Regions from separate parts of the Homo sapiens genome. Here all the other regions are linked to region 1. The links come from fine-mapping of genetic effects on gene expression. A gene starts in region 1. Each other region holds a variant in brackets. All regions are shown on one strand. Distances are from middle to middle.

Region 1 (10,140 bases):
TCCAACATGGTGACACCCCATCTCTACTAAAAATACAAAATTTAGCTGGGCATGGTGGTTTGCATCTAGAATCCCAGCTACTCAGGAGGCTGAGGCAGGAGAATTGCTTGAATCCAGGAGGCAGAGGTTGCAGTGAACCAAGATCGCGCCACTGCACTCCAGCCTGGGTGACAGAGCGAGACTCCGTCTCAAAAAAAAAAAAAAAAAAAAAAGAAGTCAGGGTTCTTTGGATGCAAGCAACAAAGACTGACTTTGGTTAATTAGAGTCTCCCCACTCCAAAAATAAAAATAAAGAGTTCACTGGAAGGCTAAGGGCAGTTCACAGAATAGCAAAATCAAAATCAAGGCTCAGGAATAACAGGGTCAGGGTGACTCTCGAAGCTGGGTGACAGGAACTAAGGAACAGGCTCCATTCAAAGCCACTGCTGGGCTATATCGGTTCAGTTGTCTTTTTCTCATTGTATCATATCCTTGCAGATTAAGTTCCCAGAAGGAGGGGGTCTGGTGTTTTCCCTCGTATCTTGCATCCACTGACTTCCCCGAGGATGAGGCCCCCTGATTAACACTCTTCCAAGTCTGCATGAATTGGGGAGGGATGATTACTCCAGAGAGATGGGAAATCAATTTCTTCCACCTGAGGAAGTAGCTTTGGCAAAATCGAAGTATTCTTCTGGGGAAGCAGCAAGACTGCCACTTGGCCGGGGCACCCCGCTGGGGGCTGGCAATGCTCTGCTTGCAGTGGGTCCTGGAGCCAGGCTCCTTTCCTGGGAGAAAGGGGTGTGTTTTTACAACACACAAAGGTGCTGCTATGGACTGAACTGTGTCCTCCCGAGATTCACATATTGAAGGCCTAACCCCTACTGTGACCATATTTGGAGACAAGACCTGCAAGGAGGGAATGACGGTTCAGTGAGGTCCTAAGGGCAAGACTCTGATATGACAGGATCAGCGTCCTAAGAAGGGACACAAGAGGGGGCTGTGCTCTCTCCCTCTCCACTGCATAAGGACATAGAGAGGAAGAGGGTCCTCACCAGAAATCAATGGCTGGCACCTCGATCTTGGACTTTGCAGCCTCCTGAATTGTGAGAAGATAAATTTCTGTTGTTTAAGCCACCCGGTCTATAGTGGTGTTTTTTTTTTTTTGTTTTTTTTTTTGTAGCCTGAGCAGACTAACACAGGTGCCATATGGACTGGCAGCCGATCTGGCCTCTATTCCCTCACCTATGAAACCAGATGGTCTCTAAAGCTCCTTCTAGCTTTAAAATGCAATGTGTCAATATATCCATGAATCATCTATCAATGCATATTTGCTTGCTGCTCAACTAAGTCCTGAGCTACAAATAATAGGAGGCTGTCGAGTAAAATACAGTATGCCCAGTTACATTTGAATTTCAGATATGTTTAAATCCATTTTTAGTGTAAGTATGTCCCACACAATATTTGGGACAAATATTTGAGACATTTGTTAAATCTGGCTGTTCTAGTTATTTGTCTTCTGTTCTCCAAATACTGTAACCTTTTGGAGGGAGAAAAACTGGACCTTACTCATCTTTGGATTCCCTTATGGTGGTGTCTGCCAGCTTTTTGGATTTCACTGACTAAACATTATTGGATTAAGTTTTGGAAGAAAAAACAAATTTTTATTTTGCCCAATAAAGGTATTTATAATAATCATCACTTTACTAAAGAAAAACCAGTTAAACTTTAAAACCTATTAAATAGACTCTCAGGATTTTATAATTAATTGTAAAAATTTAGTTTTACAACATATTCATTACATTATCCTTTTGTTTGCTTGTTTCTGAGGCAACCAGGTGATGCTCTGAACCATTTTGGCACTGCTCAGGTGACCAGTGTTTGGGAGCTTCAGCTGTGCTGTGTTTGGTTGAAGGTCTTATATGACTTCTGGACATTTTTGCTTATCTGCTAGGAAGCTCAAAGTCAAATTGCAGCTTGACCGCTACAGCTGTCTTCTCCTCTCCTTTCACTCCTTGTTTCCTGTGTTTTCTTCCAGGCCTTTAAACTTTTTTTACTAAATGAAGTTTCATTATAATCTACCTTAAGAACTGGTGAAATACAGTTTTTTAAAAAGCCTTGCATACAGTAAGACCTCAGTAAACGATGCTACTGACAAAGCAAAGATGCAACTATTGAGTGGGGTCTAATTAGTTTACTTTCTGAAGATGATTATTCCCCCCAAATGCATTTTTTTTTGTTGTTGAGATGGAGTTTCACTCTTGTTGCCCAGGCTGAAGTGCAATGGCATGATCTCAGCTCACTGCAACCTCCGCCTCCAGGGTTCAAGCGATTCTCCTGCCTCAGCTTCCTGAGTAGCTGGAATTACAGGCATGCACCACCACGCCCAGCTACTTTTTGTATTAGATGGGGTTTTGTAGAGATGAGGTTTCACCATATTGGCTAGGCTAGTCTCGAACTCCTGACCTCAGGTGATCTGCCTGCTTTGGCCTCCCAAAGTGCTGGGATTATAGACATGAGCCACCACACCCGGCCTCAAAGGCATATTTTAATTTCCTATTCTTAGAATTTTAGAATGTTAGAGCTAGAAAGGTAATCACATCTTCTAACTCAATTCCAGACTTACTGAATTGGAATTTCTGGGGTAAGATCTGTGAATCTATAAGAATTCTAGTATCTAACATGAGGATCCACTGGTCCACAGGCCCTCTTAGCATATGTCAAAGCAGGGTATCATTTTACAGGTGAGACGACTGAGGCCCAGGAAAGCGAAGTGATGGTCATATGAATCGGTGACAGACATGAGTCAAGTGCACGGCACCCAGCTTTCTTAGTAAATTAACTGACTGTTGGGAGACAGGAAGGGCAGGGACAGGTGTTCATTAACTAGTTTCTGTTCACACTATACAGTAGGAAATGAGCGCTAGGTATAGAGAAACGGACGATATAAGAGATTTACCTCAAATAATAACAACATCCCTCTCTTACCTGTTCTGGGATTTCACAGTTCACTAAGCACTTCCCCTCATAATACCTTGCTTTGATTCTAATAACAAGATTTACCAAGGTGGTATTGTTTTCTACATTTACTTTACAGATGAGAAAATGGAGGCACAATCACTGGGTATGTCAGGTCAATAAAAGGGGTAGAGCTGAGATTTGAATACTTTCTACTACTAAACCTCACACAGATCCCCTAAGACAGGCAATGTCTTTGTCATTTAAGACAAATGGGCTGGGCGCAGTGGCTCACACCTGTAATCCCAGCACTTTGGGAGGCTGAGGCAGGTGGATCACTTGAGGTCAGGAGTTTGAGACCAGCCTGGCCAACATGGTAAAACTCTGTCTCTACTAAAATTACTAAAATCAGCCAGGCATGGCGGCATGCACCCATAATCCCAGCTATTTGGGAGGCTGAGGCAGGAGAATCATTTGAACCCAGGAGTCAGAGGCTGAAGTGAGCCAAGATTACACCACCACACTCAGTCTAGGCAACAGAGTGAGACTCTGTCTCAAAAAAAAAAAAAAAAAAAAAAAAAAAAAAAAAAAGGAAGGAAGGAAGAAGGGAGATTATTTATTGTTTCAAAAGTCACACAAATTCTACATTATTATTTTAGAAAATTCAAATCATTCTGAAAAATAGAGATTAAAAAGCTGAAAAGTGTATTTCATGCCACTCTGCTCCTGAACAGTTTGGTGACTTTTTAAGTTTCCTTCCCAGACCTTTATGAGTTTACATACATGTACAGGTAAGGATGAAAAAAAAAAAAATCAAACTACACACATTGCTGTGCTTCCTTTTTCTTAGCATGTCTGGTCCATTTTTTCAAATCCTTTAGTAGACTTGTTTGTTTTTAAATGAGCCATGTTTGAAAATAGAACAATAGCAACATTCATATGCACACTGATAGAGAAATGTTATATTTATCACCAATGGTGCTCAGGATGGCTCAGGATGTTGGTGCTCAGGATGGGGTAAAGTGACTCTTTAAGTCTCATGACTAATCTTCTCTCAAGAGGAGGGGCTATGGAATCAGAATCACAAGCTAGCTTAATAAAGCCTTGAGAAATATTATCAAATAGCTGTCTTAGTTTCCCCCTCTGTAAAAGGGGGACAAGAATGTGTTCCATAGGTTGTAGTGCGGTTAAATGAGGTAACTCATATTTATGCTAAACACAATGACTGATGACTACAATGATGACGATGATGGCAGCCGGGCGCAGCGGGTGGGGCTTAAATGGCAAGTATAGCAATACCAGGAATGGATGCCCCGGGGAGATACTTTTTATTAAGAGCTGCCAAGTTAGTATGGCTGTCTGGGATGTCCTCTGGAGACAGCCGACTCCGGGTTTGGAAACCTCAACGTCCTAGGCTTTCAGGACCTAGTGTTTGGCTAAACCTCTGGAGAACTACAACTTCCAGGGTGCACCACTTTCGCCCCGCCCATGACGTTGCAGCTCCCGTTTCTCGCCAGGCTCCCGGCCCGAACTACAAATCCCAGAAGACACTGCAGCCCCGCTCGCGTTCTCGTCTCATCATTCTTACTTTTGGAAGCGAAACTGCGGCCGCGTTGCCTGCTGGGAAATGTAGTTCAGCGGTGGCCTAGCCCTTCAGGCCTGGCCGCTACAATAAGGCTGGCGAACTCGCAGCGCTTGAATACCCGTGGCCTAACCGTCCACTCGGAAGACCGGTCCCGCTCGGGAGGCTCTGCAGTCGCGCCTGGGGTCAGGGCCGGGGGCGAATGTGGCTCGCGTTCTAGGCCTCCCTGGGTGAGAAAGTGGTAGACTGGCAGGAAGGCGGCGGAGGCGGACGAGACCAATGCCAGCCTGGAGGAGGAAGTGGGCCAATGGGAAGGGTGAATCCAAGTGGAGATCGTAGGGGTGGGAGTGGGGCGTGGCGCCCGCTTACCTTGAGGCTGGGTGAGGCTCGCCCCGAAATGCGGGGCGTGGGGGGCGGGGGGCAGAGGTCCCTGCCTAGAGGGGAAGAGGGGCGTCCATGTGGCGGAATGGATTTATGGTTTGGGGCTGATCAGTGGGTCTTATGGCCGAGTCTCTCTGGTTAGTGGAGACAGCTTACCAGGCCTGGGATCTGGGGAGTTTGGAGGTGCAGGAGATCCCTGGTTGGAAACTTAGGCAGGAGTGTGTTACCCAGAGAGACTGAGGGCTTCTGCTGTGCACCTCCAAAACCTTTTCCTAACCTCTTCACCCCTTCCTAACTGCTAATGGTTGGAGAAGGTGGAAGTTCTCTGGGGATAGATACTTCGTGGTGGGGGAGGGGGGAGGGGGGTTGGGTTCTGGCCAAAGGGAGCCCCAGCAGGGAAGGAAGGCTTTGAACCCTATAGCTGCCCAGAGGCCTAAGCAATGCTACTGGAGTACCCCTACATCATCATTGTAACCGTTACACAGCATTACATTAGATGCAGCCTATTTAGTCTGAACCAAGCCAGACAAATTGGTGTGTCCTGCCCGCTGCTTCTAAAATATTGTAAACATGTCTCAGCTCATAGGAAAATAAATGTTCCGGGTAAATTCATGGAAAAAAATAATCAGGGTGCAATATGGAATGTTTACAATGATCCTACTTTATAATAAATTCTTATATCTCCTAAATATGTGCCATTTTGTTATGGATGAAAAAAAATCCGAACTATATACTCTAAATTATTAATTTCAACTGTGGTTATTGATGGCTGGTAAGATTACAGAGTAATTTTATTCTTTTTTGTTTACATCTTTATGTAGCATCTTAATTTGCACAGTGAACACATAATTTTTTTTTTTCTGCTCCTTATTTTCCCAGGAGAGTCAGTCAGTTGCTCCGTGTGTTGTGTTGGAAGTCAGGTCCTAAGGCCAGCTGCTCTGGCTTGCACTGAGCCACAGGCAGACTGATTTGCCAGGAATGATAAAAAGGGGTGAATGTGAGGGGAGAATTCAGTGTGCAGGCTATGGGAGGCTAATGCTTTTTTCCTTCTTCTAGGTTGGAAAAAGACTATGTTAGCAAGTGTCACGCCATGGTATGTGGTTGGTTGGTCTATTTCAGTCTAATCTATTATGCTTTCTGGTTAAAAATGTCACCTTTCTCATTATCTGATGGATTTACGTTGCAATGCATAACTTTCTTAGGTTCTGATAACTCACCTTGGCTGGGCCATGTGAGTTATCAGAAGAGTTACTCACCATTTTGGCAGTGCTTCGAACCATTGAGTTACCATGTGAGTTACCATGTGAGAAGGAGAGAAATATTGCCTCTGAAATGCCTTTTTAGCTTTGGATTTGCTTTTTGCTTTTTTTTTTTTCTTTGAGAGTTTTGTTCTTGTTGCCCAGGCTGGAGTGCGGTGGCACGATCTTGGCTTACTGCAACCTCTGCCTCCCAGGTTCAAGCAATTCTCCTGCCTCAGCCTCCCAAGTAGCTGGGATTACAGGCGTGCACCACCACGCCTGGCTAATTTTGTATTTTTAGTAGAGATGGGGTTTCACCATGTTGGCCAGGCTGGTCTCAAACTCCTGACCTCAAGTGATCCACCTGCCTCAGCTTCCCAAAGTGCTGGGATTACACCCGACCTGCTTTTTGCTTTTTGATCAGGGTCTTTATTTCAGCATATGCTGCCTACTATTTCAGTGTGTGTGCAATTATAAAAGAAACTTTAATACATCCTTTAGTTGTGCTCATTATGCATTTTCTGGGACAAAAGCTTGTTAAAATCATGGTTGGAGTATGACAATTAATACATGTAATGTTCATTTCATTCTTCTTACTTTCTTCCACAGCTTTTGCCAACTTTCCAATTAAAGGTTGACATTCCTGCATAAGCATTTCTCTGTGAAAATGTCCTTGCCTCTTACAGAGGAGCAGAGGAAAAAGATTGAAGAGAATCGACAAAAGGCTCTGGCCCGCAGAGCTGAGAAGTTATTGGCAGAACAGCATCAGAGGACTAGCTCGGGCACCTCCATTGCTGGCAACCCATTCCAGGCCAAGCAAGGCCCATCCCAAAATTTCCCAAGGGAGTCTTGTAAGCCAGTGAGCCATGGTGTCATTTTCAAGCAACAGAATCTCAGTAGCTCATCTAATGCTGACCAAAGACCTCATGATTCCCACAGTTTTCAGGCAAAGGGAATATGGAAAAAGCCAGAAGAAATGCCCACAGCCTGCCCAGGCCACAGTCCACGTAGTCAAATGGCTCTCACTGGAATCTCTCCTCCCTTGGCACAAAGTCCTCCAGAGGTCCCTAAACAACAGCTCTTGAGTTATGAGTTAGGTCAAGGTCATGCTCAGGCTTCACCTGAGATCAGGTTCACACCCTTTGCTAACCCAACTCATAAGCCTCTGGCCAAACCAAAGAGTTCCCAAGAGACACCAGCTCATTCCTCTGGACAGCCTCCCAGGGATGCTAAGTTAGAGGCCAAGACAGCAAAAGCCTCCCCTTCGGGGCAGAACATTTCTTACATCCATTCTAGCTCAGAGAGTGTAACGCCCAGGACAGAAGGAAGACTCCAGCAGAAGTCAGGGTCCTCAGTCCAAAAAGGAGTGAACTCTCAGAAGGGAAAGTGCGTAAGGAACGGCGATCGTTTCCAGGTGTTGATTGGGTACAATGCGGAACTCATTGCAGTGTTTAAGACCCTGCCCAGCAAGAATTATGGTAATGTCTTCATTTTTCAGCTGTTTTTTTTTTTTTTTCTTATTTTTGGAGTCTCTTTTAATCTAACAGTTTCTCATAAATATTAAGAGAGTGCATTGGCACATGCTGTCCATCCAGTTGTTAAAAATTTTTCAATTTTAGCTTGTTTCCCTTCATAATAGTCATTCCCTTAAACAGCTGCCAAACTTGATGGTTGTCACGTGGCCATCTGGAGAACAGTTGAATGTTACTGAGAAGACGCTTCCTCTGCCAGGTGCTTTATATGCATTGTAGCACTTAAGCTGAACAGCAGTTTTTTTGAAATAAGTAGATGTTATTTTAGTTTTTAAGGTGATGGAACTGGCCCAGCAAGATTAAGTGACAGGCCCAGTTTCATTGGTCTGGAAAGGCAGCGTCAGGATGTGACTAGCTCAATTACAGGCCAGAGCCATTACTCCTCATACTGCTTTGCCTGACCACACTACGACCTGGAGAACTTGGATTCTAGTCCTAACTCTGCCCTCAGTCCTCTTAGGTGAAGTTCATAACTTCCCAGGGCCTGAGTTGGATTCCACTACATGGAATAAAAGAATTATCTATATTTACTATTTGTCCTCTACAGAGATTTTTATAGATCAGTGGGGGCTTGCTGGTCAGCTGTTTTGAACTTGGCGTCCTTCATTCATTCATTTAGAAGACAAGCTTGTGTTGAGTGCCTAAGTACAAATTGTCAACAGTCATCAGTCCTCTGTTTTGTTTCAGATCCTGACACCAAGACGTGGAACTTCAGCATGAATGACTATAGTGCCCTGAGTAAGTAGACACATGGTTGTCTCATGGAGGGTGGCACTGGTGCTGAAAATCTTTAGAGTATCACATGTAGTCCAGCTTATGGAGTGCATGGCTTTACAGGTGGTGAAAGCTTTCAGGGCACCCCCCCCAACACTCCTTCCCACTCTGTCTAGCCTAATGAGGCAGCTCTGTGGGTGAAGGCCGTTAGTAGTATTAACAAAAGCTAGCATTAAATGATGCTTGCTTTGCATTAGGCTATTCTAAGCCCCTTATGCTAACTTTTATTCCTTATAATGACTTTTTTACAGATGGGGAAACTGAGGCCCAGGGACGATGAGTCAGTAACACAGGGTCACATAGCCAATAAGTTGTACAACTGGGATTCAAACCCTGACAGTCTGACTTCAGACTACACGTTCCCACCAGACTATGCTGGCCCCAGCAGTGACAGGCAGCTCAGGCAGCCTGCCAGCCCCTGCTCCCAGGAAGGTAACAGTTCAGCAAACAGCACAGATCCTCAGAGTACTCTCTGTGCAGCTAACTACTCAAAAATGCAAGGAGGGGGCATTGGCCAGGCAAGTTCCAGCTAATGCAGTGTCTGGTCATAGTCAGCACCTGGTTACGTCCCTCTGTCTTCTGAGAAAACTGTCATACACTAAAGTTTTTGTCACTTGATCCTGGTACATGGAGCTTGCACACCTGTGTCAAAGCGTCAGCCCTGTGTGTTTTCATCTTCCATTTATTTTACTCTTCTCCCCCAGCTGCCATTTCTACACCGTCTCTTCCTCCCCCTAGCTTAAGAAAGGAAAAGATAAGGATGTATGCTTAGGTCACTTTGCAGATTTGGGGTATGAGGTAGGATTATCTGGAGGCACCAGTACAGTTTCTGGGAAAGGTGGTTTGGGCCAGTGATGGGACAGCTCCCTGCAGAATTTCCTGGTTTTCTCCTTGGCCTCCAATTCTTGAAATGTGTACATTAGGCGATATCTTTCTTTGGTAGCTGCTAGTGTTGTTAGTTTGCGAGGGCTGCCGTGACAAAGTACCACTGACTGGGTGGCTTAAACAATACAAATTTATTTTTTACAGTCCTGGAGGCTGGAAGCCTGAGATTGGTAGGGTTGGTTTCTTCAGAGGCCTCTCTCCATGCCCTGCAGGTGGCTGTCTTCTCTCTGTGTCCTTGTTTGGATTTTCCTTTGTGTGTGCAAATCCCTAGGGTCTCTCCCTTTTCTTAGAAGAACACCAGTCATTGGATTATCGCCCACCTTGGTGACCTCATTTAACTTATTAACCTCTTTAAAGGCCCTATCTCCATATACAATCACATTCTGAGGTCCTGGGCTGTGTGTTTAACATGAATTTTGGAGGGACACAATTCAACCCATAACGCTGCTGCTGCTAGCTCCGTCTAGTGAGGGCTCATTTTTTAATCGATTTATTTGGTGTTGGAACGGGGAGACCCAAGGCTCTGGATAAAGATTGCAGATTTTGACACCTGGTATTCTCATTGCTGGTGATCTTAAACCAGTGGTTTCCCCTGTTGCGGTTGTTTTGTCTTTTTACTCTTGTTCTGACCACGGTGCATGGTGACTTAGATGACTTCTGCTTTTGCAGATTCATTTAGGTTTTTTGTGTGATATCGTTACTTTTTTTTTGAGACAGAGTCTCACTCTGTCGCCCAGGCTGGAGTGCAGTGGTGCGATCTTGGCTCCCTGCAACCTCTGGCTTCCGGGTTCAAGTGATTCTCCTGCCTCAGCCT
Region 2 (10,140 bases), 84 kb after region 1:
TCCTAGAAGTAATAACTAAATAATTTGAGATAAAGCCATTTGTAATTTATCTCTATGCATACAAATATATGTAAAATACACATAGAATCTGTTTTTACAAAAACTGTATCAAATTCTTCATACTGAAAATGACTCACTTCACATGATGTACTTGGCCATTGTTTCATATTGATCTACCCATTAAATTATGATTTATTTATTTATTTATTTATTTATTGAGACAGAGTCTGTCTCTGTCGCCCAGGCTTGAGTGCAATGGTGCGATCTCAGCTCATTGCAACCTCCGCCTCCTGCTACTCGTTAAATTAAGCTTAACCCAGTGCTGCCTTGTTACATATTTTAAAGTCCGCCTAAAGGTTTCTCTGTGCAGAGTGAACTATAACCTAACTAGATTGGTAAACAGACTGGGACCCACTCTTGTAACAAGTAGCCAAGTCTCAGGCAATTACCGCAGCCATATGTCAGCCAATCACAGGTGGCCAACCGTTCACACTGTGTTCAAATAAGGCAAATATGCAACCAATCCAGCTCTTTCTGTCCTCACTTCCCTTTTCTGTATGTTACTTTCTTTGTTCTGTCCATAAATGTGAACCAACCATGTGGCAACCCTGGAGCTGCTCCGGACCTCTTCTGGTTGTGGGGGCTGTCCAATTCACAAATCATTCTTTGCTTAATTAAACTCTGTTAAATTTAATTTGTTGAAAGTTTTCCTTTTAACATACCTTATCCCACTTAAGAGTTGCCAAGTAACTACTCCAGTCTTTATGTGTGCACTTCCTGTGTAAATGCTCTGTGACGGGTCCATTAATAACTAGAACGAGTTTAAATGGAATTTGAGGGGAGAAGGAGGAAAGGAAAGAGGGGTTGCCTGAGTCAATTTCCCACACTCTTATTCTTTCGGGGCATCCAGGACTGCCTTGGAGGGCCTCACCTTTCCTGCTGGGTCAGCTCTTGCCTGTGGCTCTGGCCTCACGGGACTCTCAACAATGCTGTGCAGGCCCCACTCTTGTCTGTGGCCCCCAGGGGCTTTGTGGAGAGCAGGCTCTCTTGAGGCATGAAGTGAAGGAACCACGCCCCAATAAACCCTTTCTGTCTCCAGCACAAGATGAATTTGGAATGATGCTTGCACCTCAGATTTCTTTCAAGAATAAAATGTTCCATATGCCCCAAGAGAACTGGTTAACAGCTACAAGAACTCCTCTCTGGAGGTGACTTTTAACTTATTTATTTTTCTAAAGGCAAAGAGTGAATGTTGAGGGCTCCTTAAGAGCAGAGGTGAGCCAGCAGTGATTTTTACTGAGTCTTTTATGGGGACACATTATAGTTAACATTCTCCACACCGGATGGTACTCTAATAGGGATGGAAATTTATGAGCCCACAGAAAAGACAAATTGAGACTTTAGGAGAGGGCCGATTCTCTGAAGTCACTCAGAGCTGATTTCATGAGTGCTATTTGTACATCCTCAAGCTTGCTATTTAAAGATAATTGTTCAGTTTTGACAAAATTGCTCTGAACATGAACAATTTCCTCCTATTATGGAGTGTCTCATTTTCAGCCGCTTACTGCATTCCTACTCATGCATTCCCTCTTCTCTTGCTCTCTCTCTCAGACCCCCCTGAAGGCCAGAGACGTAGGAGGCTCTGCAGCGGAGGGCGTGGGGGAGGCAGCACATTTGCTAAATGATGATCTGAATTAGGCTCTAGTGCCAGCCCAGGATGGCTCACCTCAGCTCTGCCTGGACTGCCCCAGCATGAAGCTGACTCACCCACTCCCCAGCTCAATTGAGCACCATCCTGTGTGGCCAAGAGGCACAGTCTGAAAAGGGAGGATCATGGTGAGCATTTGTTTAAGACTCCTTCCACTAGTCTCCTTTGTTTGTATCAACATGGATATATTTTTGTTTTAATTTATAGTTTTCTGGAGGCAGGCATTGCTTGGGTGGAGAGCTTTCCAGATAACATCCCTGAAATGCAGTGCATTTCCCTTCTGAGGGAAGAGGGACTTGTTCCCTTGGCCCCTTGCCATCTTCCACCCTAACCTATGGGGGCAGAGGGTGCATGAGGCCTGTGGTGGAAGAGAAACATCTTGGGCACATCTCACTCCCTTTGTGGGCCTCAAGCGGCATCAGTTACCATGACTGTAGTGGTTTCATTGTGTCCAAGCTAAAGAAATTAAGGAGAAAAGAGATGGGCATATTTTTAAGGGAAAGAAGAAGGCAGATCTTCTGTACTTCCTTGAGTATGGCAGAAGAGGAGAGAGGATTGAAAAGGCAGAAAGAGATGTTGAAATCAGGTAGCAGCAGCAGCAGCAGCAGCATCTCAACAAACATACTGGCCACTATTTTAAAATGTTCACTAGACACTTCATGGAAGTTATTTTATCTTCCTGAGACCCTTTATTGTACAGTATACTCATTTTGCAGCTGCGGAAAGAGACTTAGAGACTTGAATCATGTGATACAGTGGAGCGAACACACGTTTATGTGTCACTTAATGGCTATGTGACCTTGGGCAAGTCATTTGACCCCCCGGGCCTCAGTTTCCAGTTTGGGCTACATTATCTCTAAAGCCTTTTTCAGTTCTGACATAACTGGACTGACTTTACAAAGCAGAGAAACCCAAACACATGAAACGCTTCATATACCCATCACCATTATACCATGCAAGGTAACAATCCCCCATTCAACAGACATTACTGCTGACACGTCAGGCTCTTGTATAGGTCCTGGGATGCAGAGGTGAACAACACAAGCCCTGTCCTCATGGAATTGACTTGTGGTGACCTCCTTGGGTGGTGGTGGTGGTTGTTTTAAAATAGACTTTATTTTGTAGAACAGTTTTATAGTTATATAAAAAAATTGAGGAGAGAGTATTTTTGTATACCCTTACCCAATTTTCTCTATTGTTAACTTTTTTTTTTTTTTTTTTTTTTTTGAGATGAAGTCTTGCTCTGTCGCCCAGGCTGGAGTGCAGTGGCACGATCTCAACTCACTCCACCTCCACCTCCCAGGTTCAAGCAATTCTCCTGCCTCAGCCTCCCGAGTAGCTGGGATTATAGGCATGTGCCACCATGCCTGGCTAATTTTTTGTATTTTTAGTAGAGATAGGGTTTCACTGTGTTAGCCAGGATGGTCTCAATCTCCTGACCTCGAGATCTGCCTGCCTCAGCTTCTCAAAGTGCTGGGATTACAGGCGTGACCCACCGCGCCCGGCAACATCTTAACATTAGTATGGTAAATTGGTTACAATTCATAAAGCAAGATTAATACATTATTATGACCTAAAGTCTGTAGTTTATTCGGATCTTCCTAGTTTTTAACGTATTGTCTTTTTTTTGTTCTAAGATTTCATGTTACATTTAGTCATCATGTCACCTTACGCTCCTCTTGGCTGTGACAGTTACTCAGGCTTTCCTGGTTTGACAGTTTTAAGGAGCCCTGGTCAGGTATATTGAAGGATGTCCCTCTTTTGGAATTTGTCTATTGTTCTCATGATTAGACTGAGGTTATGGGTTTTGGGAGAAAGATCACAGAGGCAAAGTGCCATTTTCATTCCACATCAAGGGGACATAGTAACAAGATTATCACTGTTGATGTTGACCTTCATCACCTTGGCTGAGGTCGTGTTGGCTATAAAGTTACTCTTTTTTCCCCTTTCTATACTGTGCTCTTTGGAAGGAAGTCATTCTGTGCAGCCCACACTTAGGGAGTGGGGAGTTATGCTCACCCTCCTTGAGAGCAGAATATCCACATAAATTATTTGAAATTCTTCTTGGCCGGGTGCAGTGGCTCACACCTGTAATCCCAGCACTTTGGGAGGTCGAGGAGGGTGGATCACGAGGTCAGGAGTTCAAGACCAGCCTGGCCGTTATGGTGAAGCCCCGTCTCTACTAAAAATACAAAAATTAGCTGGGTGTGGTGGTGCATGCCTGTAGTCCCAGCTGCTCAGCAGGCTGAGGCAGGAGACTTGCTTGAACCCAGGAGGCAGAGGTTGCAGTGCGCCCAGATCATACCACTGCACTCCAGCCTGGGCGACAGAGCAAGACTCGGTCTCAAAAAAAGAAAAAATAAATTCTTCTGCAAAAGAGAGTTGCCTCTTGTCTTTCATTTATTTAGTCTATCATTTATTTATATCCACATGGACCCATGGATATTTATTTTACACTTGGGTTAAATCAATACTACCTTATTTATTGCTCAAAATTTTCTAGCTTTGGCCATTCGGAGTTCTTTCAGTTGACTCCTGTGTCTCTCTGACATATCCCCATCAGTGTAGGGTTTTCTGAACATTTCCTTACTTTCTGGCACAAGATACTGCAGGCTCGCCTTGTATATTTCCTGCTGCAGTCCTAGAATGAGTCACTTCTCTAAGGGGCCCTGGTTCCTTTTATTAAAGAATGATATTATAAACCAAGATCTGGGGTCTGGGCATGGTGGCTCATGCCTGAAATGCCAGCACTCTGGAAGACTGAGGCTGGAGGATTGCTTGAACCCAGGAGTTCCAGACCAGCCTGGGCAACATGGCAAGACTGTCTCTACAAAAATAAAAAAATTATTTGGGCACTACTCAGGAGACTGTGGTGAAAGGACTGCTTGAGCCTGGGGAGGTCAAGGCTATAGTGAGCTGTGATCACACCACTGCACACCAGCCTGGGGAACAGAGCAAGACCCTGTCTCAAAACAAAACAAAACAAATAAAAACAAACCCTGAGATCTGGGGCAGTAGGTATACTCGTCGTTACTGGAGATGTTTGGGGTTTTTTTTTTAATGGTAGTTTTTTTAGATTATAAAAGAAACACATGCTCATTATAAAAGATAATTAGAAAATGCAAAAAATGTATGCAAAAATCAATTTGACTATTCCCACTATCCACTACTTTTTGCTTTTTCTCCTCCTTGAATTTACACAGCCAGAGCTGGAATAACAGATTGGGGAGGATAAAGAGACAACTACCTTTATTCCACAAAA[T/A]TGTGCAAGATGTGCTGACATAAAGCACATGGTGGGTCACTGCCCCAGTGGCACTCAAAGTCTGGAAGCTCTTCCTGGAATCATAGGAGGGAAGAACTGGACAGGACCTTGAAGACCACCTGGTCCAGCTCCTTGTAAATAAAGATGGTGGCTGCTGGGAGGTGGGGAGGTGGTTCTCCATGTGGGGACTGTGGCTTACCTAAAGTCAAACCACAAGGTAGTTACAGATCCTGGCCCAGACTGAGTGCCAGGGACCTGATTTTAATTCAACTATGTTTTCTGATGTGCTTTTTCAGTGCACTAAATATTATGATTTGGCGTAGTACAAGCTAGCAATTAGGAGAACTAACTTTGGGATCAGACAGACCAGATTTGAGTTCTAATTGCTGTGTGACATTGAGCAAGTTTCTTAACTTCCCTGAGATGAGTTTCTTTTTTCTTTCTTTTTTTGTTTTTGTTTTGAGAAAGGATCTCACTCTGTTGTCCAGGTTGGAGTGAAATGGTGTGATCATAGCTCACTGTAACCTCTGAACTCCTGGGCTCAAGCAATCCTCACGTTTCAGCCTTTTGAGCAGCTAGAACCACAGATGTGTGTCACCATACCTGGCCTATTATTTTTTTGTGTGTGTGGAGATGGGGTCTCGCTATATTGTCCAGGCTGCCTAGAACTCCTGGTCTCAAAGAATCTTTTCCAAGAGAGACTCTGTCTCAAAAAAAAAAAAAAAAAAAAAAAAAAAAGAAAAAGAAAAAAGAAAGAAAAGTATATAATAACTTGTCAGAGGTCCCACAGCTGGTAAATAGCAGAGTTCTGTTTTGAACCCATACTGAATCCAGAGCCTCTAAGTTCCTAATCATTACATGAGACTTCCTCTCTTTTTCTTAGTAATGAAGATAATAATCATTCCTATCATAAAGGATAATGGAAAATTAAATGAGAACATCCACATAAAATACTCAGTGCCTACCATGTGTTACCCTCCAACAATTGTAACCATATGAAGTACATAGCTGTTTGCAAGTTGCTTTGATTTGATTTGATTCATATATATTTTTTGAGACAGAGTCTCACTCTGTTGTCCAGGCTGGACTGCAGTGGCGTGATGACAGCTTACTGCAGCCTCAACCTCCCAGGCTCAAATGATCTTCCCACCTCAGCCCAGGTATGCAAGTTGACTTTAATACAATTGTGAGGAAAAGTGAACAGGTGCAAAATTATTTGAGACAGTTAATATTAAGCTTTGGGAACGGAAGCTACTTGTTACCGGACTTCTGATTGGAATCAGGGCCACACAATGCCTTTCAGCTCCCATGGTCTTTCTTGGCCCTCTAATCATGGATTCTCTCTTACACTCTTATTCCAGTAGTTTTCTGAGCTTCTTATTCTCTGGATTAGCCATCCCCTGAAAAAAGGCAACCAAACTTCCTAGTGTGTGTGTTCTACGTGAAGAAAGAAGATCATGTGTCTAGTTCCAGAACACACCCTCCCCACCCCCGGCCTCAACCAGAAATCCAATTCTTCCCTGCTGACCCCTTTGAGAGACCTGGAGGGACAGAGAATTGACGGTGGGTAAAGGGTAAGATGTTGGAGTTTAAGGGTTCAGGCCTGGACCAGGAAGCTGTCTTAACAGCCTAGTGTGGGGCCATGGAAGTGAGTTCTGAAATGAAGTGGAAGGCAGGCCATCCGCACTGAGATGCAGCAGCTGGAACACAAAACTCCAAGGTGACTGTTAACTTTTCCCCAGCCTTCCAATCTCAGACTTTCCTCAGGAAACACCAGGCTCTTCTGAATTAGTCGCGAGCAGAACCATCGTCCTTTCCTTCAGAACTCTGACCAGTTTGAAACTGTCTAACTTCTTAATGTGGCTATATGATCGTTTGCAGCTGGCCTGCAACTTGTTCTGGGAATGGAACCTTGGATTTTAGTCACCACTGTCGCTAGCATCCTGCACAGTCAGCCACTTTTAGAGAGCATAATGCAGAGGGGGAAATAAATGAGATTTGGAATAGAGACGGGGTTTCACCCTGCTGGCCAGGCTGGTCTCGAACTCCTGACCCACCCCGCCTCCCAAAGTGTTAGAATCACAAGCGTGAGCCACCGCGCCCGGCCCCACAAATGTAAGATTTATGCACTTCTCCAAGCCAAGTGCTGTGCATCGAATGGAGGAACTCGTACCTTTGCAGGATTTTGTGATATATGTGAAATAATCCGGACATGCTTCTGCTATGGTTGTTTGTCGCCATAGTTTGCGAATCTGGGTAAACCTGGATGAGAGAGACGCCTTACAATTGCAAACATTTCTCAGGAGGCCGCCTGAAAACGCCCAAACCATAGAGCTCAGTTCCTAGCTAGGCCTCTACCAGCCACTTCCGCTCGTCCGCCTAATACCGCGCCTGCGCACCGCGTCTCTTCCTTTCTGGGCTCGGACCTAGGTCGCGGCGACATGGTGAGTGTGGGTCTCTGTGCGGCCTAGAACTCTATCTGCCTGCATCTGTCCTTGTTTTCTTCTCCCGCACCCATCTCCTCTCCTGCCTTACCCCGTGTTCTCTCCTGTCTCCATGCCTTTGCAGGAGACACCATTGTCGGAAGCTCCCCAAGGCGGAGGGGCGGGGGCGCCTTGGCTGGGCCTGGCGCGCTCCAGCCGGGTTAACGCCGGGCCTTCGGAGCGCGCGGCCAGCCCTGGGCACTGGTTTCGTTGGGTTGAATTTAGGGAAAACTAGGTCATATGTAATTCACATGTCGGTCACACGTCAGTGAGGTGGAGGAACGGTGTGTGGAGGCTCCAGGGCCTGCCTGGGTTCCAGGTCTATCACTGGTTTCTCCCTTCACTCTAAACAGGCCAAACGTACCAAGAAAGTCGGGATCGTCGGTAAATACGGGACCCGCTATGGGGCCTCCCTCCGGAAAATGGTGAAGAAAATTGAAATCAGCCAGCACGCCAAGTACACTTGCTCTTTCTGTGGCAAAGTAAGTAAGGCAAAGTCTCTGGTGAGAGGAGAGGGAGGGCAGGTTTCTTACCCAAGTGAGGCCTGACTTCAAGGTATTTTATAAGCCGTGTGCTGGTGGGCAGTTGGAATTACTCATACCGTTGATTATGAGTTTTAAGATAAAAGTGTTGATGGTAACTTCAGATTTTGTGAGACGTTTTTCATTTAAAGAAAACCGCTTAAACGTTAATGGGTAAAATAATCATTTGACAGAGTGCCCCCAGCCTAAGCCAAACCTGCTTTGTGGGAAATGATTCCATCAGTTTTGTCTACTGATGTTTCTGCACCAACTCCCAAGATGTCTGTGCATCTAATACCATTCTACTTGTTCTGCGAGGGATTTTTGTTTGATAAAGGTTTGAACGTTTATGTGCAAAATACTGCATTACAGCAATCCCTGTTTTGTTTTTGAGGGAGAAAGGGAGGCTTTCACATCCCTGACAATAAGGTGAATCCAAATTTAGACTTCTGGATGCTTGTAAGAGAAAATACTTACTTGGTTCATAGTGAAAATTGGTTCTCTTTTATAGACCAAGATGAAGAGACGAGCTGTGGGGATCTGGCACTGTGGTTCCTGCATGAAGACAGTGGCTGGCGGTGCCTGGACGTACAAGTGAGTCTAGTTCCTTGTGGTATTTGGAAGTGTGTGGACCACATAGGCCCAAATTCCAGGTTGCTGCTGGATGGGCTAGTTTTAACACTTTCTCAGGACTGAGAGAATAAGGATGCCTTTGTATTTTCAGGATTCTTCCGTGGTGGTTTATTTTCAGTTATTGAAAGAGTAAACACAAAACTACCAAAATAGAAGTCGGAAATCTAATTCACAGACTACTTTAGAATTTGATGGTCACTGGGCACATTGTTGTGAACATTGTCATGATACTGTGCAGGTCCATTAGTGGGGCTGAATCTACTGAACGTTGATTTGCACTGCAAGTTTTGATAAAAATAGGTGAAGGGGTCAGTTAGTTCAAAACTGTATTTGGAACTTGAGGCCATCAGGACCACCACAGTTTCGTCTTTCTGAACAGTATTAGACTGCTGCAGGTTTGTGAATCTGCAACTCAGTATCACCTGACAGGGCGATACTACAAACACTATACTACAAACTAGCATCTAGACCTGTGTTGTCCAATACACTAAGCACATATATGGCTAGTGTAATTAAAGAATTGGATTTTAAAGTTTCAGTCAATTTAAACTTAAACCGAAGCAGTGGAAAATGTTGAAATATATATATATTCCTTGTGGGGGTTTTTATTAGGGCAGAATGGAAAATGGGAACTAGAGTGCTTTCTTGGTTCTGATAGGAAAGTGAATTATTTATATACTTACAATACAGGATGGTGATTTTCAGGTATAGTTCCTGAATTTTATGGTAAAACTTTTGTAGTCATTTCAATAGCTGTCTTTCCCAAAGGCACTTTAGTGTCCGCTCTTATTTCCTTAATCATTGTTCTCACTGTATCATCTTGTAATTTATTCATTTCTTGTAATCTGTCCATTCCCTTTTAATAAGTTTAGGTCAGCCTCTTAGAACCATTTCTTTTTCATGGGATGGGGTAGGGGGAGTTAAAGCTTGCTTGTCCACAACTGAGTTACTTATAAAAAAAAAAGCAACTCTGGTTGAGAAATCAGATGCATGAGATTGTATGTCTAATTCTGCAAGATCCTGAAGGCATGGCTCTTAAAGGATGCCATCATGTAGTTTAGAAGCCACTAATTTCCGAGGAGTAATCTAATGTTGGTTAGATCTTTGGATTGACTGCAGCAAAGTATTGGTAGAGCAGTCTATCTCAGTATAATTCTTTCTAGGAAAATTTGGGAAGCGACTTTAACACAAAAACGAGGCAGATTTACTTATTTGCCATTTTCTATGTTAACATGCTTAATTATGTTGGAAACTGAATCTTTCTTTCCAGTACCACTTCCGCTGTCACGGTAAAGTCCGCCATCAGAAGACTGAAGGAGTTGAAAGACCAGTAGACGCTCCTCTACTCTTTGAGACATCACTGGCCTATAATAAATGGGTTAATTTATGTAACAAAATTGCCTTGGCTTGTTAACTTTATTAGACATTCTGATGTTTGCATTGTGTAAATACTGTTGTATTGGAAAAGCATGCCAAGATGGATTATTGTAATTCAGTGTCTTTTTTAGTAGTCAAATGGTAAAATGCAGCATA
Region 3 (10,140 bases), 53 kb after region 1:
TATGTGTGTATATGTTGCTTTAAGATATATTTTTATGTATCTGCATATAAATATATATAAAATATTATATATGCAATAAGCAATATGTGTATTTTAAAAGCAGAACTGGGATCATACAAACACGTCAAGTGGGAAGGAAAACAGGTTACTGTCTTATGAAGACTTTTCCATGTTGTTAAATATTCTCTTAAAACATAATATTTAGCCAGGTGTGCTGGCTCACTCCTGTAATCCCAACATTTTGGGAGGCCAAGGCAGGAGGATCACTTGAGCCCAGGAGATTGATACCAGCCTGGACAACATGGCAAAACCCTGTCTCTACAAAAAATCCAAAAAAATTAGCTGGGCGTGGTAGTGTGTACCTGTAGTCCCAGCTACTTGGGTAGGAGGCTGAGGTGGGAAGATCACCTGAGTCTGGGAGTTTGGGGCTGAGGTGAGCTGTGATTGTGCCACTGCATTCCAGTGTGACAGACAGAGACCTTGTCTCAAAAAAAAAAAAAACAAACCATAATATTTAAAGACTGCATAGTGTTTTCTCACACGGCTATAATTTTGCTAATCGTTTTGTTGGGCCTTTAAGTTACTTTCAATTGCTCACTATTCTGAGTAATACTGTACTGAAAAAGTAGCTTACATAGAAATTTGTGCACATGCAATTTTATAATGAGAATTAGTTTTAAGGAGTAAGTTGCTGGATGGTAGGGTTTTGGCATATTTAAAGGGGGTTGGTACGTTTTGCTGCATCATCCCCAAAAGGGCTAGCCCAGTGTACCATCCCACCAGTCAAGTATAATAAAAGTGTTTGTTTCTTCATACTCTCATCAACTCTAGGTGCTAAATGTTAGAGCAAGATTCCTGAAAGTGCTTCTCAGCAGTTTTCCATCTGTTTGTTTTGCCCTCTTTCTTTCTTATTAGGGAGTATGGCATGAGTGAGTGTAGGTGGGAGGGGTAGGCTCTCTCTGAAGGACACGAGTAAAACTGAAGATGGGGGCCAACTGGGGTGCAGTCTGATGGAGGCACACATGCTGCGAGTGAGGTCATCACATGTAAGCCTGCCCTGCCCCTTTGGCTACTAGAAACTGCATTGGGTTGGAGGGCCTAGCCTGCTCCTGGGGACCGTTAGACGTCCATGAATGGATTTCATGAAGTCTGAGCTCACTAGCCACAGGTGAAAAGTTGTGTATGTTTCCAGAGCGTGATACAAAATAGGAGGGTAGGTGGCTGCCACTGCCAAGACACATGTAGGATATGAAAGGGATTTACAGTCTAATCAGTGACCCCACAGCTTCCTGGGTTCCTCAGCATCTTTCTTTTTTCCCGTAAAGTCCTGGAGGAAAGATACCATTCAAAGCTAAGAAGCTGGCCAGATGCAGTGGCTCATGCCTGTAATCCCAGCACTGTAGGAGGCCAAGATGGGAGGATTACTTGAGCCTAAGAGTTTGAGACGGACCTGGACAACATAGTGAGATCCTGTCTCTACAAAAAATAAAAAAAAAAAAAAAGCTGGTGTGGTGGTGCATACCTTTAGTCCCAGTTACTTGGGAGGCTGAGGTGGGAGGATTGCTTGAGCCCAAGACGCTGAGGCTGCAGTGAGCCATGATCGAGTCCAGCCTGGGTGACAGAGCATGACCCTGTCTCAAAAACAAAAACAACCCCAAAGCCAAGAAGCTGTTTTAACCAGACAGCTTTTTCCTCCATCCATGGTTATTAGTTTTAGGTACAGTCTGGCTGTGGTTGCTTTCCTGAGTTATCAAGATCTCAAGAATGACAGGTTCAAGGCTATAGATGTTATTGCTGTTGAATCACGTCTTTGTTCCCTGGGGAAGCTGTCCTGTCAGTCACAGATCTTACAGAGGCCAGGCACAAGAAGGGGGGTGCACCTGTACTATGCTTGCTGGTGAAAGGAGATGGCCACCTGTCTTGGTCCTTTTGTGCTGTAACAAAATACTTTAGACTGAGCCATCTATAAACAGAAATGTATTGCTCATGGTTTTAGGGGCTGGGAAGTTCAAGATCAAGTGGCCAGCAGATTCAGTGTCTAGTGAGGGCCCAGTTTCTGTTTCAAAGAGGGCGGAAGGAACAAAGAGGCTCTCTGTCCTTATGATCTAAGCATCTCCCAGATGCCCCACTTCCCACCACCACTGCACTGGAAATTAAGTTTCAGATTATGAATTTTGGGGGGACACTCTTACCAATGATGGTAAGAGTATGATCTCTGGGAGGCCAGAGCGATAGTAAATGTTATCTCACATTATTATGAAATGATTTGAGCATCTCCTGTGTTAGCATTCTTTATTAGGAGTCACTTAAATGTAAACCATAAAGAAAACACCGTTTCTTCTTCTGGGAAGTTAATTACCTTATGTGGGAGGTATACCAAGAACACCTGAATAATGGTTTTAAAATGATACTAAAATGGGCCAGGTGCGGTGACTCATGCCTGTAATCCCAGCACTTTGGGAGGCTGAGGTGGGTGGAACACCGGAGGTCAGAAGTTCGAGACCAGCCTGGCCAACATGGTGAAACCCTGTCTCTACTAAAAATACAAAATTAGCTGGACGTGGTGGCACATGCCTGTAAGTCCCAGCTACTCGGAGGCTGAGACGGGAGAATCGCTTGAACCTGGGAGGCAGAGGCTGCAGTGAGCCGAGATCGCGCCACTGCACTCCAGCCTGGGCGAGACAGAGCGAGACTTTGTCTCAAAAAAATAAAAAATAAGATAAAATAAAATGATAGTAAAATAGACTAGTCAGGGTCCATTGGAATTGATTCAGTAAATCTTGGACAGAGGTAAGCTCTGTAAGTCAGGTATAGTCACAGCTTGGCAGAAGAAAAGAGGGAAGCAAAAAGCAAGTTGGGGAAATGTCACATGTAAGTTGTCACCAGGCTGTAGTAAATAGGTATGCTTAGCCAAGGCCACATTTCAGTGGTTCACATGGGTCTGGTGTGTATGGTGAAGCCCTACCTGAAATGCGTCTCCAAAGAGCTTTTGTGTTCCTTGCCTCTTGGATTCTTGCAATGGTTCTTGGACAATGGCAGAGTAGCTCTAATGCCGTCTCTGAGGACAAAACCCGACCCAGGCAGTTCTTCTGACTTGGCCAAAGTGAAAGGGGAATCATTGTCAGCACCAGGGTCTCCTGACTCTGGTGACGGGTGGTTGAGATTTGTAAAGCGCATAGGAGCAATAATTAGATCCACTCATCCCAGAGTTCTCAGACTGGGGCACTTAACATTCTTAACTTATCTTTCAACAGAAACAGCAGCAGAAAGATGCCCTCATTCTCTTCTTCAACAGAACAGCTGAAGCTAAAATCCCATCTGTCATGTAAGTGGTCACTAAGTGTCGACCTCTCTCTCTCTCATCTTCAAAAAAAAAAAAAACAACTTATTACTTTATTCTGCCTGAATGATTTTACTGCGTCTAAGAAATGACCAGAGATTATTAAATGTGCCTTTTGTTGAGGAAGGAAAAAATAAAACAGATGATCAGAGAGTAGAATTATAGCTGCCTTGAAAATAAAGTTTAGGGGCCAGGCTCAATGCCTGTAATCCCAGCACTTTGGGAGGCCAAGGTGGGAGGATTGCTTGAGTCCAGGAGTTTGAGACCAGCCTGGACAACATAGTGAGACCCCATTTATACAAAAAATGAACAGAATTAGCTGGGCATGGTGGCATGCACCTGTGGTCCCAACTACTCAGGAGGCTGAGGAGGGAGGATTGCTTGGGAGGGAGGACGGTCGAGGCTGCAGTGAGCTAAGGTGGTGCCACTGCACTCCAGCCTAAGCAAGAGACTAAAACCCTGTCTCAAGGGAAAAATGAAAAAAGTAAAAGTTTAGGGCACCCTGCTGTTAATTACACACAAGGCATAAGTTGGCCGGTAACTGGAGCGACTACTAGGATGTACCTGGGTCTCTAAGAGATCCTGTCTTGAGCCAAGTAGGCTGGAGCTGCTGCTCGTTAAAAGGAGGGTGGGGTTGTCCCCAGCACCAAAGGGGAGAGTTTTTCTAGGAGGACTGTGATCATTTGCCTTTAGGGAAAAAAAAATTAGAAGGAAAAGCTGCCTTATGGGGATACTTGGGTCTTCCCCAAGGTCAGGAATTGTCATCCATTACTTACCTAAATAAAAAGACAAATGTCAAAGTTTGTTCAAAAGATATGGGCATATGGCCGTTGTCACGCCTAGTTCTATTTCCACCTTATAAATTAAAGCTAAAGTAATAATTTCTATTCTTACAATTATTCATGACAAAATCTCAATTGTATGCCTTTCTTAAAGAAAAACCCACTCCTATTTAAATATCACTGGGGTAGAAACCTGGCAATTCTAATGATGTGCAGTTTGCCTGATTTTTTTTTTTGTTTAACATTCATGTGATGCTCTGGCAGGATAATGGTCCAACTGATGAAATTACAATGAGAATGGATTCCGTAGGGCTGAGTGGTGCCAGACTGGCTGTGGGGACTGAGATCTGGGGATAAATTAAGAAATATATCTGCCCCATCCTCGTACTTGGCCCACCTACCTCTCCACACCCTCCACTGTGGCAAGAGAGCTCCCCACACCACTCGATCTGCAATGCCCCCTGGAAAGACTGCCCAGTGCTGGCCTCCTCCCCTTCACCTCCTGGGCACTGCCCTTTTCATTTATGACCCTGCTAATGAACTCCAGATGTGGTTTTTATGGCCTGGAAACTTTTCTCCCAGAAACACATCTGAGTTGCCCCCGCTGACCCATTTCTCATGTGCTGTGGAATAACAGATGGCAAGGGTGTGCGTTTCTCCCTTGCTCCCTCAGCTCAGGACCTGCAAAATTCAGAGTCCACCAGGTGCCTCTCTCTTCAGATACTGTGCCCAGAGCCACCCATTTCCCTTAGAAATTTTAAGTCTTTCTACCACCTCATAAATAAACTTTGGTCATACCTTATACATACTTTCTCAAATTTCTATTATACAATAAATTGTATAGTGCTTTGTAGTTTCCAAACATTTTTTACACCTGTGAACTCATTTCACATTTACAGCATCTTTGTGAGATCATGTAAGTCACACTGGCTCCATTTTTAAAAATGCAAACACTGAGTAAATCTATGACTCTCTGGACCTCAGAGTCACACAGCTAGTAAGTGGAAATTAGATTGTATGTCTTCAAAACCCCAATTTCCTCAGCTAGTTGTTTTTCTTTTCTTTTTTTGCTGTTGTTTGTTTTTTCATTTTAATGGGCATCTTTTAATATAAAAGCCAAGGTTATTGTGGTAGGCAGATATTTCCAGCCTAGGAACTTGTAGAAGGTTATAGAACAACAAAGCTGTGTATGAGATATAGAGGGGAAAGACGCATTAGGAAAATTGGGGCCTGTGGTTTTTATGAGCTCACCAAGTGGATTTTGTGGCCTTGTGACTTTTTGATGCTGTAGCCGTAAACTTTTTTGCTTATATCATGGCAAATTTTATGTCTCTCAAAATAATTAAAGTAAATTCTATTAGTATCAACAATTCACAAATTGAACTCAAATCTGGTGCCCTGGTCAGTCATAGTGTTGTTTGAAATGACTCTTGGATGTTTACAGGGCAGTCCACGTACCTTTCCCTCACCTGAGACATATCCTTCTTTAAGGAAGGCAGAGTCTGTTCCCTGTCCAGACGCACCCATGGCTGGCAATGGCCTCAGCAAAGGAGCTCACTTGCCTGTACTGGGCTTACCTCTTCTTTGGGATTGTGATCCCTCTTCAGGGAGCTACCAGGGGAGGGGGCACCTAGCCAGGGTCTGTTAACCTGGTGACTTCCCACCCCACTGCTCCCTGAGGGTAGCCACCTTAAGGCCAAGCGAAAGATAAGAGGTGGGAAGCTTGCCGGGTGCGGTGGCTCACGCCTGTAATCTCAGCACTTTGGGAGGCCAAGGTGGGCAAATCACTTGAGGTCAGGAGTTTGAGACCAGCCTGGCCAACATGGTGAAACCCCATCCCTACTAAAAATACAAAAATTAGCTGGGCGT[T/G]GTGGTACACACCTGTAATCCCAGCTACTCAGGAGGCTGAGGCAAGAGAATTGCTTGAACCCAGGAGGTGGAGGTTGCAGTGAGCTGAGATTTCAGCACTGCACTCCAGCCTGGGCGACAGAGCGAAACTCAGTCTCAAAAAAAAAAAAAAAAAAAAAAGGGTGGGAAGCTAAGAAAAAACACAGTGGCTGGAAGAGAGATGTAAATTAAGGGAGGCCAAACAAATGAGAACCTTCTCTCCATAGTCCTCTGCCTTGGAAGAGAATTAACTGACTTAACTACTGGCCCTGTCATTTGAGGTCTAAAGTGGGAGGAGCTGGAGATCCTTCTTGGAATGTCTCTTTAGTATTATGTATGTCTCAATATTTAGCTTCTAGAAATTTGTGTACTGTCATTAATTCCTTAGTCCCCTCCCTAAATGCTTTCAGATCTACAGAGGACACTCTAATTTGTATTTAAAACACATTATAATGATAGTCGGAGGTAAAGTGAAAACTGTTGATCATCTTCTATGATCCCAGATAATAAGAATGTTTCAGTAACATACCAGAGACACATAAAACATAAGGAGTATATGTTTAATCTGTTTTGTTGTCATTGTCAAATGCAGTGAATATATCTTGGACCTACTGGAAAGTGGAAGAGAGAAGTTTTTAGTATTTGCACACCATAAGGTGGTCCTGGACGCAATTACGCAAGAGCTTGAGAGAAAGGTGAGCTCCCTTTGAAATTCACCATGGGCTACTTTTGCCATGTCCCAAGTTGTTCTAAGCAGGCTTAGGTCAGATCCAAGCAAAGTGAGACCGATGGCTTCCGGAAGCATTGCTGAAGACTTTCTGAAGAAGAGTTCTTGCTTGTAGAACCACAGTGGGGTCAAAATGTTTCCCCAGCCATGTCATTTTAACTTCCTCCATGCTCCAAATAGATATCCCAGGAGTCTTGCTTTAGGAACATCTCCCAGGGGCTGTTCCATTATTCTGCATAAATAATTACAAAGTTGGCAAGAGAGGAGATAGCAAAATTGTCCTTTTGTATGGAGACAAGTATTTATGTGAATGTTTTCCTCTTTTCCTTCCTTTCATTCCTCCTCAGCACTGTCAAAGCACTTTTATTAATTCCACATGGCAGTGTGCAGACATTAGTAGAGAGTTTTATGGCTCTCCTGAAATTGAACGAAAGGGATCTAGAAGGATTTCCAAGGATGTTTATGAAAACTGAACACATTTCATCCCCTTTTCATTTTTGGTTAAATTTAAGGCTGTAAATTGCTCTTTGTCTTCCCTCATCGTTTATATTTATATAACATTTGAATGTACTTTAAGAGTACAGAGAAATATACAGCAAATACCCATGTATCTCCCACCCAGATTTAATAAATGAATTTATTTCAAGGTTTTTTTATTTTGAGGCAGAGTCTTGCTGTGTTGCCCATGCTGGAGTGCAGTGGCAGGATCTCAGCTCACTGTAGCCTCCGCTTCTCAGGTTCAAGTGATTCTCGTGCCTCAGCCTTCCAAGTAGCTGGGACTACACCACCTCACCTGGCTAATTTTTGTATTTTTAGTAGAGACGGGGTTTCACCATGTTGCCCAGGCTGGTCTTGAACTCCTGGCCTCAAGTGATCCACCTACCTCGGCCTCCCAGAGTGCTTGGATTACAGGCATGAGCCACCACACCCAGCCTGAAGGTTTATTTTTTTAATAATAAAATACTTAGGTCCCCTCAGTATTCTAACTTTATTCCCCTTCCATCTCTCCAGCAATAACATCACTATTACGAAGGCAATGGGTATCCTTGCCCTCCATGTTGTCATACTATATTCTAGGAGTACGTATCCATAAGCAATTTATCGTCTCCTTTTTGCTTATTTTTAAAAATTTAAAATAAATGACAGCACGGTGTAATTATCCTGCAACTTACTTTTTTCTCAGCATTGTTTTAGAGATTTCTTTTTTTTTTTTTTTTTTTTTTGAAACAGTCTTGCTCTGTCCCCCAGGCTGGAGTGCAGTAGCACGACCTTGGCTCACTGCAAGCTCCACCTCCCGGGTTCAAGCTATTCTCCTGTCTCAGCCTCCCGAGAAGCTGGGACTACAGGTGCCCGCCACCATGCCTGGCTAATTTTTTTGTATTTTTAGTAGAGACAGGGTTTCACCGTGTGTTAGCCAGGATGGTCTCGATCTCCTGACCTCATGATCCGCCCGCCTCGGCCTCCCAATGGAGATTTCTTTATACTGCATTACACGTATAGTTCATTCACTGTAACTGTGGAATTGTATCTCATTGGATAGCTATACTGCAGTTTATCCATTCTCCTGCTGATGGTTGCTATCGTGTGAATATTATAGTAGGTGTATGTTTGTATCTATGCATTTCTTTATGGCTTGTGTATGTGCTTTGTGTAGGGGAGGCATATTCAGGCATGCTCTTGCATGGTTATTAAATAGGTTCATCTTCATACTAAATGTTGTCAAATTGCTCTCCAAGGTGGTCATTCACATTTATAATCTCACTAACAACATATAAGGGTTCCTGCTGTTCTGTGTGCCCATTAACACTGGTATTATCCAACTTTTTAATTTTACCAATCCAGAGAAATGAAATATCATCTCATTCTTGCTCTAATTTGCATTTCCCTGACTACCAGTAAAATGTGTATCATTTTATTTATTTATTTATTTATGGCCATTTTAGCTGTCTCCTGTGAATATTCTGTTTGTATCCTTTGCCTGTTTTTCTGTTGGATTGTTTTTTTCTTACTGATTTAGGAAAATTCTTTATAAATTCTGGATATTAATGTTTTATCAGTTATCTTTTTATCTTTTAAATTTATTTTGTTGGGGAGGGGGGTCTCGCTCCGTTGCCCGGGCTGGAGTGCAGTGGCTTCATCTTAGCTCACTATAGCCTCCGCCTCCTGGGTTCAAGAGATTCTCATGCCTCAGCCTCCTGAATAGCTGGGATTACTGGTGCACACCACCACGCCCAGCTAATTTTTTTGCATTTTTTTAGTAGAGACGGGGTTCCACCATGTTGGCCAGGTTAGTCTCAAACTCTAGGCCTCAAGTGATCCACCTGCTTCAGCCTCTCAAAATGCTGGGATTACAGATGTGAGCCACCAGGCCCAGCTGGTTTAATTGAATTCTAATAAAAACTCCAACTAGATCTTTTTTTTTTTTTTGAAGCAGAGTCTCACTGTATCTCCCACACTGGAGTTCAGTGGCACGAATGCTGCTCACTGAAGCCTAAACCTCCTAGGCTCAAGTGATCCTCCTGCCTGAGCCTTCCCAGTAGCTGGGACCTCAGGAATGTACCACCACGCCTTGCAAATTTTTAAATTTTTCTGTAGAGACAGGGTCTTGCCATGTTGCCCAGGCTTGTCTAGAACTGGGCTCAAGCAATTCTTTTGCCTCAGCCTACCAAAGTGCTGGGATTACAGGCATTAGCCACCGCACCCAGCCTCCAGTTGGATTTTTTAAAGGGAACTTTATACTGTTACTCCCAAGAACATCTCAAAAAAAAAAAAAAAAAAAAAAAAAAAAGCAGGAGCGATATCTAAACAACTATGAAAAAGAAGAGCAATGTTGGAAGACTTGTCCCTTCAGACATTAAATATTAAAATCTGTTATAAAATACCAATAATTAAAATTCAGCCATGCTGGCCCCAGAGAGATGGCCAGATGGTGGAATAGAATACATGGCCCTTTACCATAAATGGAAAGCAAATACATGATCAAGGAATTGTCACAAATCCGTTTTCAATTTCTTCAACAAAGTTTGGGTAATTGCCTAAATAATTGGGGGGTGGGAGGGTAGATGAAACTTTAACTCACTGTTTACTATATTAAATTGCAGGTGAATCAAAGATCCTTGAAACCATAAAGTATTAGAAGAAAATACCAATGAACAATAGCTGATCACTGGGTGGAGAATGACTTTCTAAGCATAAAAACCAAGAAATTACAAAGGAAAAATTGATTTGAATTACCTAAACACATGTATTTTTTCTGTGACACATACACAGTGATTAAATTTTTTTTTTTTTTTTTGAGGTGGAGTTTTTGCTCTGTCGCTCAGGCTGGAGTGCAATGGTGCAATCTCAGCTGACTGCAACCTTCGCCTCCTGGCTTCAAGCATTTCTGCCTCAGCCTCCCAAGT

Direction of the effects. Alleles are on the strand shown, and positions count from the first base shown. SD is a standard deviation of normalised expression in the study named. Not every link is listed here.
For the expression in stomach of the gene that starts at base 4,582 in region 1, allele T in region 3 goes with a lower level than allele G (small effect, 0.23 SD a copy in GTEx).

What was found. PIP is the estimated chance that this variant, and not a neighbour inherited with it, causes the effect.
Region 2: its variant is fine-mapped to the expression of SMARCAL1 in whole blood (INTERVAL, PIP 0.90).
Region 3: its variant is fine-mapped to the expression of SMARCAL1 in stomach (GTEx, PIP 0.91).

Annotation. Positions count from the first base shown.
Region 1 is chr2:216,407,903-216,418,042 of GRCh38, forward strand. SMARCAL1 (SNF2 related chromatin remodeling annealing helicase 1) reads left to right here and starts at 4,582. Exons shown (of 18, transcript NM_014140.4): 1 at 4,582-4,746; 2 at 5,954-5,990; 3 at 6,745-7,613; 4 at 8,355-8,405. The coding sequence starts at 6,803. It overlaps SMARCAL1-AS1 (SMARCAL1 antisense RNA 1), which reads right to left and starts at 4,598. Exons shown (of 5, transcript XR_001739881.1): 1 at 4,523-4,598. RefSeq lists enhancers at 4,344-4,638, 4,382-4,471, 4,602-4,691, 9,852-9,911.
Region 2 is chr2:216,491,464-216,501,603 of GRCh38, forward strand. RPL37A (ribosomal protein L37a) reads left to right here and starts at 7,381. Exons shown (of 4, transcript NM_000998.5): 1 at 7,381-7,414; 2 at 7,807-7,935; 3 at 8,486-8,568; 4 at 9,878-10,140. The coding sequence starts at 7,412. The coding sequence ends at 9,941. It overlaps RPL37A-DT (RPL37A divergent transcript), which reads right to left and starts at 7,289. Exons shown (of 4, transcript NR_183317.1): 1 at 7,144-7,289. RefSeq lists enhancers at 1,104-1,163, 6,798-6,887, 7,068-7,457 and a silencer at 4,626-4,695. The variant T/A (reference allele first, on the strand shown) is at 4,971.
Region 3 is chr2:216,461,343-216,471,482 of GRCh38, forward strand. It overlaps SMARCAL1 (SNF2 related chromatin remodeling annealing helicase 1), which reads left to right. Exons shown (of 18, transcript NM_014140.4): 13 at 3,255-3,325; 14 at 6,602-6,704. Among named protein-coding and RNA genes, the nearest start is that of RPL37A-DT, 32 kb to the right of the region's middle. The variant T/G (reference allele first, on the strand shown) is at 5,992.